Linked DNA regions of Homo sapiens. The protein of the gene in region 2 purifies or fractionates together with the protein of the main gene of each other region. This does not show direct contact. Each region holds a gene or a part of one and is shown on either strand. Other genes may lie near its edges.

Evidence for each region. Proteins that work in one complex are often made in the same cells at the same time.
Region 1: the proteins of ZNF586 (region 2) and GTF2IRD1 purify together in Homo sapiens (affinity purification with mass spectrometry; one large-scale study listed by BioGRID and IntAct). This does not show direct contact.

The regions. Positions count from the first base shown.
Region 1 is NC_000007.14:74,596,906-74,600,005, reverse strand, and holds part of GTF2IRD1 (general transcription factor II-I repeat domain-containing protein 1), read right to left. Parts: intron 1-3,100. UniProt on the Homo sapiens protein: May be a transcription regulator involved in cell-cycle progression and skeletal muscle differentiation. May repress GTF2I transcriptional functions, by preventing its nuclear residency, or by inhibiting its transcriptional activation.
Region 2 is NC_000019.10:57,768,226-57,772,475, reverse strand, and holds the start of ZNF586 (zinc finger protein 586), read right to left. Parts: upstream 2,801-4,250; 5' UTR 2,634-2,800; coding exon 2,598-2,633; intron 1-2,597. UniProt on the Homo sapiens protein: May be involved in transcriptional regulation.

The DNA of each region.
Region 1 (3,100 bases), on a different chromosome or scaffold from region 2:
GAAGGGGCAGGGCTGTTAAAGGACTTTCTCCAAGGCCAAGTCTGCGTGGCTCCGGAGGCCACATTCTTTCCTGGGCTCTTTAAGGCTGTGAGGGGATGTGGGACCCCAGGAGAGGCTCTGGGAGTTCTGGGGAGGCTGGAACTGCAGGCTAGGTTGTCCAGGGAGGGTATAAAGAGGACCTGGGGCCAGGCGCAGTGGCTCACACTGGTAATCCCAGCACTTTGGGAGACCAAGGTGGGTGGATTGACTGAGGTCAGGAGTTCGAGACCAGCCTGGGCAACATGGTGAAGGTTGAAACCCTGTCTCTACCAAAATACAAAAAAATTGTATTGCTATGGTTATCACTAATGTATGGTGGTCCTGAGTGGAGAGTTCACAGGTCCAAGTAGACAGGCAGTGCCCCAGTGAAAGAAACTCTGGTTTAGAATCAGAAGTCCTAAGTTCAAATTTCACTGTGGCCACTTACTATTATCACTGTGTGAATCTGGGAAAACTGATGAACCTCTCTGAGTCAAATGGGGAAACCAGTGTGATGTGAGACTCAAAAAACACCGCATGCATAAAAGAACCCAGCACCTAGTTCAGCACGGAGGAGGGGTCAGCAGGTGTTCTGTGGTTGCTGGATTAACTTGAGGTGAAGATGTAAGACTTTGAGCAGCACGTCCTGATTGGATGGATTACTGCATGGAAACCTCGCCCAGCCCAATAAAGAAGGGCTTTTATTGTCTTTTTGAGACAAGGTCTCACTCTGTCACCCATGCTGGAGTGCAGTGGTGTGGTCTTGGCTCACTGCAACCTCCACCTCCCAAGCTCAAGTGATCCTCCTGCCTCAGCCTCCCTACAGGTGCACACCACCCTGCCTGGCTAATTTTTTGTAGAGACGGGGTCTCTGTATGTTGCCCAGTCTGGTCTTGAACTCTTGGGCTCAAAGAATTCTCCTGCTTCAGCCTCCCAAAGTGCTGGGATTACAGGCGTGAGCCACTGCACTCAGCCCACCGGAAGGGTCTTAATGACACAGAGTAAGGGCAGGCTGGGTCCATGGGGCAAATGTCTCTTCAACTGGTGGAGAAGTCAGAAACTGGGGGTCTGTGGTGAGGCATAGAGACCCTGCGAAAGAGAAGACCCTGGAGGCAGGAGGAGCCCAGGCTATGAGTCAGAGGGATTTTTGTGGGAGATTCCACATGAAAAAGAAGTCAGAGGCTGCCCCACCCTCTGTCTCAGACTGGTCCATGGGCTGTGGCCATCCTTGAATCACCATGAGAGATGGCCACATTGGAGGGAGTGGTGGATGTGGGTGACAGTATCCACCCTCTGGGCATCTGTCCCAAATCCTCCTGAGGCTTTCATGTGGCCTTCTGTGTCTCTGCCATGTTTTGTTTTGTTTTTTTTTGAGACAGAGCCTGGCTGTGTTCCCCAGGCTGAAGTACAGTAGTGTGATCTCAGCTCACTGCAACCGCCGCTTCCTGGGTTCAAGCAATTCTCCTGCCTCAGCCTCCTGAGCGGCTGGGATTACAGGCGCCCACCACCACCCCCGGCTAATTTTTTTTTTTTTGGATTTTAGTAGAGACAAGGTTTCACCATGTTGGCCAGGCTGGTCTTGAACTCCTGACCTCAGGTGATCCACCTGCCTCCCTGCCTCAGCCTCCCAAAGTGTTGGGATTACAGGCGTGAGCCACCGCGACTGGCCTCCTCTCTGCCTTTGACCTGAGAGTAAACCAAATCGCCTCCAGATCCGTGTGTTCAGTGCCAGACCTGACCCTTTTAACTGGCTCTTTTTTTTTTGGAAACAGGGTCTCACTCTGTCGCCCAGGCTGGAGCGCAGTGGCACAATCATAGCTCACTGCAGCCTCCACCTTCCGGCCTCAAGCACTCCTCCTGCCTCATCCTCTTGACTATCTGGGACAACAGGTACGCGCCACCACGCCTGGCTAATTTTTAATTTTTTTGCAGAGACGGAGGGAGGGTCTCACTTTATGGCCCAGGCTTGTGACTAGCTCTTGATGGAAGGAGGTGGCTTCTAGCTGGGCTGTGCCACCCCAGGCTGTGGAGTTCCAGGTGAACCTGGTCCTGACAGGAGTCAGGGCCTTGGGTCTCAGGTAAGGTTGTGGCGTGGACTTGCTGAATCCTATCACTGTCCCTGTTGAGCAGCCATACTGGGCCGTGTGGCCCACGGTGGTCTATGGTTCAGATGGGTGGTCCTGAGAGCAGGGTCTACACAGCATCTGACTCACTATGTGGCCTGGGCAAGTCCCTGGGCATCTCTGTGCCTCAGCTTCCCAGCTGTACAATGAGGTGGGGTAAGATTAGATCAGTATTTTTTCTTTCTTCTTCTTTTTTATTTCTTAGGAGACGGGGTCTCGGCCAGGCACAGTAGCTCACGCCTGTAATCCCAGCACTTTGGGATGCTGGGGTGGGAAGATCACTTGAGGTCAGGTGTTTGAGACCAGCCCGGCCAACATGGTGAAACCTCACTTCTACTAAAAATACAAAAAATTAGCTGGGTGTGGTGGTGCATGCCTGAAGTCCCAGCTACTCGGGAGGCTAAGGCATGAGAATTGCTTGAACTCAGGAGGCGGAGGTTGCAGTGAGCCAAGATCGCAAGATTGACTCCAGCCTGAGTGACAGAGTGAGACTCTGTCTTGAAAGAAAAAAAAAAAAAAAAAAGGCCGGTAGCAGTGGCTTACGCCTGTAATCCCAGCACTTTGGGGGGCCGAGGCAGGTAGATCATGAGGTCAGGAGTTCGAGACCAGCCTGGCCAATATGGAGAAACCCCGTCTCTACTAAAAATACAAAAAAATAGCTGGGCGTGGTGGCAGGCGCCTGTAATCCCAGCTACTTGGGAAACTGAGGCAGGAGAATCACTTGAACCCGGGAGTCGGAGGTTGCAGTGAGCCGAGATCACACCACTGCACTCCAGCCTGGGCGACAGAGTGAGACGCTGTCTCGGAAAAAAAAAAAAGAGATGGGGTCTCATTCTGTCATCCAGGCAGGATGGCATAATCATAGCTCACTGCAGCCTTAAACTCTTGGGCTCAAGTGATCCTCCAGCCTCAGCCTCCTGGGACTACAAGTGCCTACTACCATGCCTGGCTAATTTTTA
Region 2 (4,250 bases):
CGAAAGGGGTTGGCGGACAGTCCCGTGGGACTGAGACTTCACCCTGTGGGATCTGATGTCCACTGCAGAACTACTTGGTGTATGAGGAAAACCATCCACACATTATCTAGTCACAGAAGTACTCTGTGTTGATTGTTGTGGGGGAGAGCAGAGCAAAAGCAATTTGTATTTTTTTCCACGCAGAATGGCCAAAACAAACCTCCTGATAGCCTCAGTGAATATTACACCTGCTATCAACTTGCTCATCTCAGTTGATGCAGCTCCCATTGCTACAGCTGCTAAGATAAAAAACCCAGGGGTGTTTCCTGAATCCTCTCAAGCTCTCACTGTTCACATTTAAAAATTGAGTTGCCAGGCTGGGCACGGTGGCTCAAGCCTGTAATCCCAGCACTTTGGGAGGCCAAGGCGGGTGGATCACGAGGTCAGGAGTTCGAGGCAGCCTGGATAATATGGCGAAACCTAGTCTCTACTAAAAATACAAAAATTAGCTGGGTGTGGAGGCGCGCGCCTGTAATCCCAGCTACTTCGGAGGCTGAGGCAGGAGAATCGCTTGAACTCAGGAGGCGGAGGTTGCAGTGAGCCAAGATTCCACTATTGCACTCCAGCCTGGGCAACAGGTCCAGACTCCATCTTGGGAAAAAAAAAATTGACTTGCCCCTCTAAAAAACACAAATCCAGATCTAGCCACATTGCCTAAGCCACAACTCTAGTCCATTAATCCTCACCTCGACTAGGGCAGTAGCTTCCAGTTTGATCTTCCTCCTCCCTCAACCCCACAGTCTGTTGCCCACTCAGTAACCAGACAGCGCCTATTAAGAAATTGGTAACATCACCTCACCCCTCTAGTTTCACTTCTAAGTAAGTATTTGCACACCCCAGTATCAGTTCCTGGGTGAACCCTCCACATGTGTTACATTAGTTGACAGACATAGCAACAACTCCCCATAACCTATGTCACTGATGTAGGTTTGGGGTTTGAGGTTTTTCCAAGATCCCCAGATTGAAGGACCGGAGAAATGGCACTTAAGTGTCCTAGGAGGTGCGGTAGTTCCTGCTTGGCATCCCAGCACTTTGGGAAGCCGAAGCAAGAGGACTGCTTGAGCCCAAGGGTTCGAGACTAGCCTGGGCAACATGGCGAAACCCCATCTCTCTCTCTCTCTTTTTTTTTTTTTTTTCAGACGGAGTCTTTCTCTGTCGCCCAGGCTGGAGTGCAGTGGCGCGATCTCGGCTCACTGCAACCTCTGCCTCCCGGGTTCAAGCGATTCTCCTGCCTCAGCCTCCCAAGTAGTTGGGACTACAGGTGTGTGCCACCAGGCCTGGCTAATTTTTTGTATTTTTAGTAGAGGGGGGATTTCACCGTGTTAGCCAGGATGGTCTCAAACTCCTGACCTCGTGATCCGCCCGCCTCGGCCTCCCAAAGTGCTAGGATTACAGGCGTGAGCCACCGCGCCCGGCCGTGAAACCCCACCTCTACTAAAAATACAAAAAGCCAGTTACTCGGGAGACTGAGATGAGAGGCTCTCCTGAGCCCGGAGAGGTCGAGGCCGTGCTGCGCCGTGATCGCGTCACCGCAACCCAGCCTGGGTGTTGAGTGAGAACCCGTCGCCGAAAAAAAAAAAAGATGCCAAGATCTAGACATGTGGGATAGGATGAGGACCAGTGAAGGACTAGAGCATCCCCTACTTCCTACTGTGGATTCTGTAAGTGCTTCTGTAGCCATGAGGTGTGCCAAAAGGCAGGGCTTTCACAAATGTGTCTGTGCTCGGATTTGATAGACTCAGGCTTCTCTGTAAGCTTTTTTTGGCCCTGCAGCCAGATGACTTCAGACTGAGTCTCTAATCTTGTGGCCCAGTGCTCAATGTCACCTCTCAATGATTCAACCTCTCAATGTCCTCATCACTGCCTTCAACTCTGTTCTTCCTTCGAACATCTTTTGGGAATCGCAACTCTAACACAGATTTCCTCCTTTGTTCAAAACTGTCCATGGCTTTTAGCGTCCTCACAGTCAAAGTTCAACCCTCAGCCTGGTACTGAAGAAACAACTCCGCCTCGGCCAGGCGCGGTGGCTCACGCCTGTATTCCCAGCACTTTGGGAGGCCGAGGTGGGCGGATCACCTAAGGTCAGGAGTTCGAGGCCAGCCTAGCCAACATGGTGAAACCCCGTGGTGGCGCATGCCTGTAATCCCAGCTACTCGGGAGGCTGAGGCAGGAGAATCGCTTGAACCGGGGAGGTGGAGCTTGCAGTGAGCCGAGATCGCGCCACTGCACTCCAGCCTGGGCGACAGAGTGAGACTCCGTCTCAAAAAAAAAAAAAAAAAGAAATAACTCCGTATCACACTTCTTTCCCAGTAGACACACGATGTCCCCGTGTTCCGCATCCTCCTGCCTCAGTCGCGCCTGCAGGCCTTTGCCCTCCGCCAGTCTCGCTCTGCCGACCGCATCAACTGGGTGTCGGAAACAGGGATCCCACCCGCCGGCGCCTCTCCGTCCCTGACAGAGGCCTGGGCTGCAGGGACGCGAGGAGGCGGCCCTCACGATCAGGGGCCTCAGGGTCTGGGTGGGTAGGGTGGGTAAGGCCCGGAGGTCGCAGCGCTCACCTGAGCAGGCGCCCTCAGAGCGGCTGCTGCCGCCATGACTCTGGGCGGGGGGGGAACGCGGGCTCGGCGGTGTTCCTGTCGTTGTCCTGTCCCGGGTCGCGACCAGCGGCGTCGCCGAACCTCAGATCCGCCTGTGTGCAATGGCCACAACCACTCCTCCCGAGCTCGTCCAGACCCAGCATCGCCGGATGGACCTGACAGGCCAAAATGGCTGCCACGGCTAGGACGCCGGAAGTCCTGGCTTGACTTTACGTGCCCCGGCAATGGCACGGCTTCTCTGAAGCTTCATTGGCTCAGCCACGTTACCATTTCGCAGGGCGGATTCTGGGTAATGTAGTTCCCAGACATGGGCAGCGCTTAAGGTGGCTTTCTTCCGACTTTCCGAAGAAAGGGGCAAGCTCCACTGCGAGGGGCGCTAGGAAATGGCGACTCCAGGTCCAGATGCGGAGGAGGGTCTCCCATCTTAGAAGAGGCCATACGCACATTTCTGGGGGTACTGTGTGCAACTGATTGCCCGCGTGTTTGGAGACTTCTTATTTCAGAATTTGTGATGCTCGGCTTCTTCCTTTTTTTTTTTTTTTTGTCTTTTTTTTAAGACATAGTTCTCTCTGTCACTCAGGCTGGGGTGCAGTGGTGTGATCTTGGCTCACTGCAGCCTATGCCTCCCGGGTTCAAGCGATTCTCGTGCCTCAACCATCCGAGTAGCTGGGATTACAGGCGTGTGCCACCATACCCTGCTAATTTTTGTATTTTTAGTAGAGACGGGGTTTCCTCATTTTGGCCAGGCTGGTCTCGAACTTCTGGCCTCAAGTGATCTGCCTGCAATGGTCTACCGAAGTGCTAGGATTACAGGCGTGAACCACCGTTCTCAGCCCATTAGCAACACTTTTATTTATATCTTTAACCTACAGATTCCTCTAGAAATCTGATATCAACATCAAAAAGCTAATGAGACAAATGCTATTATGTTACAGGACAATGGCTGCGGTGTTCAAACATGGAGTATGTATGCATGAGAGAAGAGAGAGACCCTCTCACATTGTTTTATATTCAGTAAAAACAACAAGGAAGTAAAACCAAAGACAGGCAACCCCGCGCCAGGCCCGAAACCAGGCCTAGGCCCGCCTGGCCTAAACCCAGTAGTTAAAAATCAACTTATGATTTAGAAGCCGATGTTATTCATAGATTCCTTAGATTGTATAGAAGAACATTGTGAAACTCCCTGCCCTGTTCTGTTCCTCCCTGACCACCGGTGCATGCAGCCCCTGTCACATACCCCTTGCTTGCTCAAATCAATCACGACCCTTTCATGTGAAATCTTTAGTGTTGTGAGCCCTTAAAAGGGACAGAAATTGTGCACTCCGGGAGCTCAGATTTTGAGACAGTAGCTGGCCAATGCTCCCAGCTGAATAAAGCCCTTCCTTCTGCAACTCGGTGTCTGAGAGGTTTTGTCTGCGGCTCGTCCTGCTACATGCACAGGGTGCTTTTACACTGAGATATTTCAAGTGCCTTAAATCCATGCGTTCACCTCTTTGCTGGCAAGTGCTTATCATTGTCAGTGGCATTGGAATCAGAGTGACTCCATCTTGAAAATGGGCTGGATAAAGTAAGGCTGAGAAATACTCGGCTGCATTCCCAGGTTAGGCATTCTTA